3 linked regions of the Homo sapiens genome follow. The protein of the gene in region 2 purifies or fractionates together with the protein of the main gene of each other region. This does not show direct contact. Each region holds a gene or a part of one and is shown on either strand. Other genes may lie near its edges.

Region 1 (3,657 bases), on a different chromosome or scaffold from region 2:
CCTCGGCCTCCCAAAGTGCTGGGATTACAGGCCTGAGTCACCGCGCCGGCCCGTCCTTTGTCTTGACGCTGTGAACACTCGACCAAGTGCTGCGTCTTATCTTTGGGCCGCATCTTGAACCCCGTCTTGCTTCCACTGCAGTTTACGGCGATGACTTCTGCCAACGCACCGGCTGCTGTGGGGCAGATTTGCTTTCGGGCTCTCACTTGTAACAGTCACTTCCCGCGGCCCCCCTGCACCCATCACTAACCAGGAAACGTTATCGGGGTCCTCCCGACCTGCACATCTCAACACCCCTGAGGCCCCACCCGGCATCGTGCCAGTGTCCACAGGGAACTGCCTGGGGACTTCACTCCTCTCCAGGCCAAGGGCATCATGTGCAAGAGCTTTAGCTAAGTGGCAGGCTTCCCATTCTGCACCTTCTGCCCCCACCTAGGGGGCAAAGACGCCCCCCGAGTGAAATAAGGTAATGAAGGCACGCTCCTCCTAGAGCCTCCTGAGGGGCCACCACAGGCAATGCCTTTCCCACACGAGGTCCCCAAAGCAGAGCCCGTGGCTGACAGTGTCCCAGCGCCACCCCTGCTGCCACTCCTTCCCCCCACCACACACCAAGAGCACACACACGCACGCGGGGTTCTTCTGGGCCGATGCTTCCTGGGAGATCACCAACCCCTACAGTCCCTCTGTAAAGGAGGAGCTTCCGAATTCTGGGACACTGGGCTCAGCTCCTTCTTTTAGAATGACCAGAGACAGGCTCATCCTCTGCCTATACCAAGTCCTTCCGGATGAGACTGCTGAAGCTGGACTCAGTCCTTGCAGAACGTGGCAAGTACTTCCCAGGTCTGGAACCCAGGAGGTCACAGTGGGCTGACATGAAGGGGCTGAGCTTACACCAATCAAGGGAGTGTGAGGATGTGCGTCACTCTCTGCTTTTCTTTCTCTTACTGAATATACAAGAACTTAAAAATAAACAGTGCTAACTGAAGAGTAATTGTCAAAAACAGGATGTCAGGCTAAGCTTCATGGCACAGAGTTTAATGTGAATCATGAGATGAGACAAAAGCCTCCTCCAGGGCGATGGGAAGACCCAGCCCCAAACCAGACTCTTGAGCACGCAGCCCTAAACCAGACTCCGGGAAGGGGCTGCGTGGTCATGCACCGCCTAAGACTCAGAGGTGAAGATGGGAAGACCCAGCCCTAAACCAGACTCCTGGAAGGGGCTGCGTGGTCACGCATCGCCTAAGACTCAGAGGTGAAGATGGGAAGACCCAGCCCTAAACCAGACTCTTGGAATAGGCTCTGTGGCCACCCATCGCCGTAAGGCTCCGGGATGGAGACAGCATGGACAGGGACCTCGCACAAAGGCATGTCGGGAGGGCCTCCTTTCCAAGGCACAGCCCCACCTGCTCCTTCTCAGCCCACGACGGGAGCAGAGCCATGTCGAAGCCGTGCCCCACACAGGGTGGACAAGGACATGGCCTGACAGCTCCTCAGAAATCCTTAGAGATTTTTCCAAACGCAGGTTACCAGGGCTTCTGCAGAGAGAGGGGCAGCAGGACGTGCTGCTGACAGTCCCTGGGGACTTACACTGACTTGCAGTGAGAGCCCACATCTGCCACCAGGATGGCTCCCAGCACCACCGCGTCACAAGCACCACACTCTCCACCGTGGGACGCCCAGATGGCTCGGCAGGCAGGCCGGGCTGGGGAGCTGACAGCAGACGCCTGGGACTCTGCCCAGCGTCCTCACCCACAACCTTTTAACTGTAACTGGCAGAGGAGACAGCAGGGAGGGCAGAAGGTACAGTGATGGCTAGGATGCAGTTCTAGGTTTTGCCAGACATACTTTCAGGGGCCACTCCTGGCTACCTAATTAATCTACCTGTGTATAAGAATTTTTTAGCTTATTAAATATTCCAAGAGGCCAGGCATGGTGGCTCACGCCTGTAATCCCAACACTCTGAGAGGCCGAGGCAGCTGGATCACGAGGTCAAGAGTTCAAGACCAGTTTGGTCAAGATGGTGAAACCCCCGTCTCTACTAAAAATACAAAAATTAGCCAGGCATGACAGCGGATGCCTGTAATCCCAGCTATTCGGGAGGCTGAGGCAGAGAATCGCTTGAACTTGGGAGGGGGAGGTTGCAGTGAGCTGAGATCAAGCCGCTACACTCCACCTTGGGCAACAGGGTGAGACTCTGACTCCATCTCAAAAAAAAAAAAAAAAAAAAATACAAGAGTAGGGCTGAGCATGGTGGCTCACGCCTGTAATCCCAGCACTTTGGGAGGACGAGGAGGGTGGATCACCTGAAGTCAGGAGTTTAAGACCAGCCTGGCCAACATGGTGAAACCCTGTGACTACTAAAAATACAAAAATTAGCCAGGTGTGGTGGCGCGTGCCTGTAATCCCAGCTACCCAGGAGGCTGAAGCAGGAGAATCACTGGAACCCGGGAGGTGGATGTTGCAGTGAGTCTGCAGTGAGCCAAGATCTCGCCACTGCACTCCAGCCGGGGTGACACAGTGAGACTCTGCTGGGAAAGGGCGGGGATGGCAAGAGTGCCAATACATAGACAATGCTGGGCAAGGCCAGAGATGCTGGTCAAGGGCGGGGATGTCGGGAGAGGGCGGGGATGGCAACAGTGCCAACACGAAGATAAAAGGTTTAGCATTTGACACCTATTCTCTTTTCATTTGGAATACGTTTGGCCTGGCCTCCGTTCTGAAAACTACAAATCACTCACTATAACAAAATAAGATCCAGAAACTTTCCATTAGCGTGGGGGTGACCATGAAATGCCTGGTCAAAAACCCGGGCACTGATTGTCATAACCATTATGCAACTGGTGTTGCGTCCATCAGAATCTAGTTTAAGAATACTCTTCTCTCTATAGGAGTCTTCGCGGCAGACCTAGCCTGCTCTGTGTCCTCCTGAAATGAAGGAATGTTCTCTCCCATTATTTCTTCTAACAGCTTGGTTAGCAAGCTCCGCCCTCTTCTTTATCTGACCTTCTAACGACCTCACCAGATGTGTGAAGCAGCCCGGCTCCATGTGTATCAGGCACGCACGCACACACGCACGCACACCAACCTGCAAAGGAAATAACGGGGCAGCCCTGCAGTGTGAAAAGCAATGGGATTTTGTGGGTTCCACCTCCTCACCTAAGCATCCCTGGTCTACGCTATGTCACGACCCTCTGCTGAACCACGTCAGGGTGAACCCCACACCGTGTCTGTGCGCCTCACCACGCCTACTGCCATGGGTGGCACTGGAACTAACCCGTGGACGATCCGACGTGCACCAGGAATAGAAACCAAGCTCTCGCAAAGACAGAGGAGCCAGTGTGTGCACTGCACAGGGTGACACGCCTCCTGTGCCCGAGCCACACGTAACACCTTCCAGGGAGGACCACACGGGGGGTTTTTAAAGGGCAACCCGCTGGGATACAGTTCTTTGTCTTTCCTAAGAAGATCATTGTACATCTGGTCATATGTGGTTTTGAAATCATAAACATTGGGCTTGTCGGGAGCTGGTCCTGGAAGCTTCACGTGAGTCCCTGTTCCAAAGGATCGGACGCTGAATCCCCGTTTGCTGAAAGACAAAAGGAGAGAAAGAATCACAGTCACACTAAGACACAAAATTCCAAAAGCAAGGGACAGCAA
Region 2 (3,657 bases):
ATCAACTTCCCAGTTAATTCAGGAATGTTATATTAGTGTAATGACATTCAGATACCTACAGATTATAATTATGAGCATTAGTATCATTAATCTAATTATTGAGCTTTTCTGTTAATAAAAGCACTGCAGTTTTTGTATTCATTATGGTAATTGCTTTGACTGTTTTTCACCTCTGAGCCAAAATTTGAGGCTGGCACATTGAGGGATAGTAGTGGATTATTGATTGGTCAGTAGACCTGTCTTGGCTCTGGTGTTAACAGAGATACCATTGGTGTTGTTACACTGAGGTTTGGTTAGCCTCAGCATCTGCCTTTCTAAAATTGGTGATACGATTTCTCTGAGACTTCCAGTTCCAAAAATCTCTTTTCTATTATGTCTGTTGAGGGTCTTTTTATAACAATCGTCAAACAGTTTTTTAATTAACATTATTTGCATTTTATAACTAATGTATATAAATCTTTGGCAAGTTAAACATAACTAATATTATTTGCTTAGCAAAGCTTTAAATAATATATAAAGTCATGATACTCTAAACTGTTGACTCTGAAGTAATAAGAATTTGCCTTACTAATTGGAAAATTACTGTGCTGTATTTTAGGTATTTTATATGCATTACCTGAGTCTGAACGAAAACTACAGAGTTCTATTCAGGATTTGTGTGTTACCTGGTGGGAGAAAGGCCTGCCTGCCAAGGAAGACACAGGAAAGACAGCCTTTGTCATGTTACTAAGGAGGAGTCTGGAGACTAAGACAGTATGCTCACTTTTTATTTTTTTAAAGACAGGGTCTCTCTCTATTGCCCAGATGGAGTGCAGTGGCATGATCATAGCTCACTGCAGCCTCAAACTCCTGGGCTCGAGCAATCCTCCTGCCTCAGCCTCTCAAGTAGCTGAGACTTCAGGAGTGCACCACCTAGCTAGGACTTTATTTTTAAACGTCTTCCTAACATTCTAAACCTGCGCTATTCAACGTAGTAGCCACTTGCCACAGAAAGCTGTTTAAATTTAAAGTTAAAAATAATGAAAAATTCAGTTCCTCAGTTGCATTAGTCACATTTTAGTAGCTCTACAGTGAAATGTGGCTAATGTCTACTGCACTAGACAGTTCAGATGTATAAAATCTTCATCATCGAGGAAGTTCTTAAACTTGCTGGATTTTTAATTATTTTCCTTATGTTTTAAAAAAATGTTCTGTAGAGCTATAGGGGGCATTTGCAAATTTTAAAATCTGTTTTTATTTGTCGTTATTTTTTAATCTTTGATGAATCAACTAGAATTACCATTATTTATGATATAAAATATACTTGATTTGAAATATGACTTTACTGTTCATTGAAAAAGGTATCACATTTTTTGTGTCATTCCTAGGGTGCAGACGTATGTCGGCTTTGGCGTATCCATCAAGCTTTATATTGCTTTGATTATGATTTGGAGGAAAGTGGAGAAATTAAAGATATGTTACTTGAGTGCTTCATAAATATTAATTATATCAAGAAAGAAGAGGTAAATAGGTATTTGTTTTTTGATCTGTTTGTGAGCTGCTTCTTAATAGATGTTTCTCCTGTGTTCACATGGTTCCTGTCTGCACCATGCTCGGTGTTGCTTAGCTACCAGGAGCTATTTACTGCACATGATTTTTACTGCATGGCAGTACTAGAGAAGACATTTTACAAGTCCTTGCTTATTTCATCATTAAATTGGATGGTAACAGGTGGCTGTGTGTTACCTAGGGGAACCGTAATTACATTTTAAATTAAGAATGATTAAAAATAAGGTTGAGAAAGCACTTCTCTATGAATGAGATCTGGCCTTCTGCCCTAATTCCATTTTAATTGCCATGTACTCAAAACTGTCATCCCATAATATCCTCCCTTTCTTTTTTCTACCCATCCTGTAAATCCAGAGAGGCTTCTGGCCTGTTGCTGCACTGCCCGTCCTGGGGTCAACTCCCATATGAGGCTACTGAGCACCTGAAATGGGACCCAACTGAACTGAGATTAGCCATAAGTATAAAATACACATGGATTTGAAGATTTAGTGGGAAAGAAATGAACATAAAATAGCTCATTAATAATTTTTGTTCTATACTTAATATAATAGACAATATTTTTATTGTCTGTTATATTAAATATTGCTTTACATAAAATATATTATTAAAATTAATCTTCTTTACTTTTGTTAACATGACTACTAAAGAATTGAGAATTACAGAGAGGCTCGCATAGTTCTTCTGTGTTAGGGGCCTTCTGCAGTTGTTTACTGAGCGTCGACTACATGCTCAGGCAGTGCCAGGGGAGACTAGAACAAGCTTTTGCATTTGGATGCTCATGGCTCAGCAGGCACATCTCTGAGGCAGAAGGAGGAAGTCATCCCTCCTCCCTGAAGGAGGTGGAGAAGGGCTTCAGAGGAAGAGGAGGACCAGCTCTGAGGTACAGAATAAGTTTCCTCCAGGTGTCACAGCTGCTCAGCGGCAGAGACAGAACTGGACCCCGGCGAGCCATCTGCAGTCTGCTAGACAAAGGGCCATGTGATTAGGACTGAGACCTTTGGCTCCCAGGGTCTTTGTTCACTTTATAGGTGGTGCCCTTGGTCAGGCCTTTCAGCCTCAGAGTTTTGTTCTGTAAAATAGGAGCAACAGTTACTGTTTCACAGGATTGTTGTTAGGAACAGATGAGGTAATATGTATCAAACCGCAGCCCAGGCGCTGGTGGATAAGAACCCCTGGGGAGGGCTGCCCTTTGCCATCCTTGCTGTGTCAGCACCATCGTTATTACAAAGATGTTGGACACAGCCTGTGCCCCACACATGTCTCCAGGATTGTTCTGAAATGGGAGAGTGAAGAAATTAATGATGGATTCAAACAATAAACTATTTTATGTTGACTTATACATAAGGAGTTGATGAATCGTACTTGTTAACTTATATATGTGTGCAGATATATAACAGACATAAATGTATGTATGTGTTATAACCTCTACCCTTTTTAAAAAATTGATGTCTCCTTTGAATTTAAGATATCTAAATGTAGTTTCCTAATCAATCATTAATTTGGTCAGGTCAGTTTCCAGTCATTCTGGGTAAACCATAAACATCTTGTACTGTACTAACAGATTACTTCCAGTGAATATTACTGTTTTTTTTTTTAACTTGCCTGTTGTGAGCATGGTTACCCTGCATTTGAATCAAAATGTATTGCATTTCTGTAGGATTCCAGTTCTGTGCAGTGGTGTGCTGGTAAGAGATGAAGGTGCTATTCACTGAGAGAGTTCTAGATAGATGCATCTTATGCACTCTATAGAGTATGAAGATTGTATTCATTCTTCTTAGGTTCAGATACATAATCTAGTAGCATGCATATAAATTATCATCACATGATGTATTTATGACTTGAAGACTGTGTATTTGGAAATTCTAGCTTGACAAACACTTAGCCTTTTAACTATATGAGTCCTCAGTTTTCTCATCTATAAATGAGAAGGTGAAATGAACTGGGATATTCAACTCCATTCCCACCCACCTATGCTAGATTTAAAGCTTTCTTTCATTTGAGACTATGGAACCATCCATGACAGAGCCAGAATGAGATGTTTATGGACCCATGGTTACTGTCTGTGGTCTCCATCTCTGCACCTGTGGCCCTTGAGGACAGAGGCGCTCA
Region 3 (2,521 bases), on a different chromosome or scaffold from region 2:
GAAGAGGGAATATATAACTTCACACTGAAGGCGAGAGGTTTTGAAGTAGTCCCTCTCTTTTTCCCGCTGCTGTCTTCCTTTCGCTACTGTCTTTTTTCCTCCTTTCCCCTGTCTTGTTCATTTTGTTATTAGGAAGTGAGGAGTCCCAAGGAGCAATACATCGAAGCATGTCTCAGCCAGAGGCTAGCAGCAGCAGCTATGACAGTGAGTGGGAACAAAATTAAGGAGTATTTATAAATATACAGCAATATTCTTAAAAAACAATCCCTTAAATTTTAAAACTGGCAATTTTAGTTTCAGAAAGATCCTGCATTGTTCTAGTGAGATTGACACTCATTAAGTCTAAGGCAGAGTCTCAGCTGCGCATCAGGAAGACTCATCCCTTTCTTGACTGCCTGGACATCATTTGTTACCTGAACTTTGCTTAATGAGCATCAAGCGTTTTTGTTTTGATAGATAAATGCCTTTAAATTCTAGTATAATTATGAATTTTTTTTTAACCTAAGTTTTTAGTTTAAGGTCTTCTACTGATGCTTTTTCCCATGAGAAAATATATCAGTATTTTTGTTATTTTATTAATGACAAAAGAGTATAGTAAAGTCATAAATAATTTAAGGAGAACAATTCAGTTTTTTTGACCTAACTTTTTCAGAAGATAAAGAATAGTCAGATTCACCCTTATTCATATAAACTCAAAATTGCCGTTCTTAAAATGCTGTTTATTTCCCCCATTACAGTTCACTTTTTTCCCCTAAAGTACAATGCGAGTTAAGGTATTTTACTATCAAAATAATCATAAGTGAGAGAAATATTATCTGATGGTAAAATATTATTGCTTCCAGCAAAAAGAAAAAGCCAAGAGTTCATGTAAATGTATATTTTTAAATTTATCAGTTTAAAAGTTACTTGAAGGAAAAGACACATTATTACATTTGTTTTTTTAATTTTTAAGATATATAGTACAATTCAGTGAACACTGTGTTTTAGGGCTTTAAGATTTTGTGTCATAAACGTGTTTCAAGAATGGTTACCTCTAACAGCAGCTTTAGAAATGTCAGTTTCTTCATTAACAATTTTATTTTCAAACACAATTTATGATTTACAGTATGGTAAGAGATTTTTCGCACTGTGTGATCTTTCAGAATGCTGTGCCTAGCAAAATGGGAGCAACTTTCCTTTAATATCTATTTAGACCATTTTAAAAATGTGTATAATTTTCTAGATACACCTAAACTCATTTTGAATAGTTGGGGGTCTATTGTGTAAGAACACATTCTGAAAGCTTTCAAAATGTGTATTGTGTAGGTTTTCTCAAATAAATAGAGGAGGTGATGGGATGGTTTTCAAGAAGAACAGAGGCCTCTAATCCTTTTATTTTTATGCAAGGCATAATTTTTACCAGTTGAGAAAATTTGGTTACTGGCTGCAAGTAATTTTTCCCCTCACAAAATGAGGAGCCTTTAAAAATCATGCATATTTTGGCATTTCAAAATCATGCCAGTATTTCAGAATTGTGCTAAAAATTAGCTAATATAGCCATGATATTTATGGCTGGTGTACTTTCCCCCCTCCTGTTCATAAAATGGAGGCTACTTTTGTTGGTATTATTTTTAAGAACCTTGGATTTTGGACCATTCCTGAGGAATCTTTGGAGAAAGCATGACTAGTCAAAAAGTAGATATTTTTAAGGGAACCCTACAAAGAAATTTCCTACTTTTTTTTTCCTACTGCATTATAAAATCATAGAAAAGCATCCCAAACTTGTATGTTATTTTCCAAATATCAAATTATATACATTAGTCTTCTGATTGGACCCTTTGCCAGTAGTGTATATTATGAAAATGGTTATATATTTAATTAAAGAGATAAGGTAGTTTTTTTTGTAACAATCAGAATTGATTATTAGGGAAAATATTGAATTGATTTATGCAGCAAAGTCAACAAGGTGCGTAGGACTGATTATATAATAAATTCCAGGCAGTAGTAGCCCTTTTAGTTGCAGTGAGAAACTTTGGATTGAAGGAGATGAGCAGCAGTGATATTTAATTTCAGAGTAAAATGGCAAATTAAGACATTAATGAGAATAATGCTATTTGAATGTAACTTTATAGTTGTTAATTTAGTGTTCTTTGTAGTGTGGTTAAAGATTTAAAATGTGTTGAAAGGGAGATATAGTATTGATTATTGACCTTGATTTTGTAATACCCTTTATGCCAGTCTCACTATCGCAGCATTTTCAGTTTTCTGTGCAGAATTAATTTCAAATTTCTTGAAATAGGCCGGGCGCAGTGGCTCATGCTTGTAATGCCAGCAGTTTGGGAGGCTGAGGCGGGTGGATCATTTGAGGTCAGGAGTTCGACACCAGCCTGACCAACATGGTGAAAGTCTAAGTCCTACTAAAATACAAAAATTACCTGGGCGTGGTGACAGGCACCTGTAATCTCAGCTACTCTGGAGGCTGAGGCAGGAGAATCACTTGAACCCAGGAGGCGGAGGTTGCCTGAGCCAAGATCGTGTCACT

Evidence for each region.
Region 1: the proteins of NCAPG2 (region 2) and SSU72 fractionate together in Homo sapiens (co-fractionation; one large-scale study listed by BioGRID). This does not show direct contact.
Region 3: the proteins of NCAPG2 (region 2) and VRK1 purify together in Homo sapiens (affinity purification with mass spectrometry; one large-scale study listed by BioGRID and IntAct). This does not show direct contact.

The regions. Positions count from the first base shown.
Region 1 is NC_000001.11:1,561,331-1,564,987, forward strand, and holds part of SSU72 (RNA polymerase II subunit A C-terminal domain phosphatase SSU72), read right to left. Parts: intron 3,587-3,657; coding exon 3,443-3,586; intron 1-3,442. UniProt on the Homo sapiens protein: Protein phosphatase that catalyzes the dephosphorylation of the C-terminal domain of RNA polymerase II. Plays a role in RNA processing and termination. Plays a role in pre-mRNA polyadenylation via its interaction with SYMPK.
Region 2 is NC_000007.14:158,687,664-158,691,320, reverse strand, and holds part of NCAPG2 (condensin-2 complex subunit G2), read left to right. Parts: intron 1-598; coding exon 599-753; intron 754-1,367; coding exon 1,368-1,502; intron 1,503-3,657. UniProt on the Homo sapiens protein: Regulatory subunit of the condensin-2 complex, a complex which establishes mitotic chromosome architecture and is involved in physical rigidity of the chromatid axis.
Region 3 is NC_000014.9:96,877,370-96,879,890, forward strand, and holds part of VRK1 (serine/threonine-protein kinase VRK1), read left to right. Parts: intron 1-132; coding exon of another isoform or gene 133-204; intron 205-2,521. UniProt on the Homo sapiens protein: Serine/threonine kinase involved in the regulation of key cellular processes including the cell cycle, nuclear condensation, transcription regulation, and DNA damage response.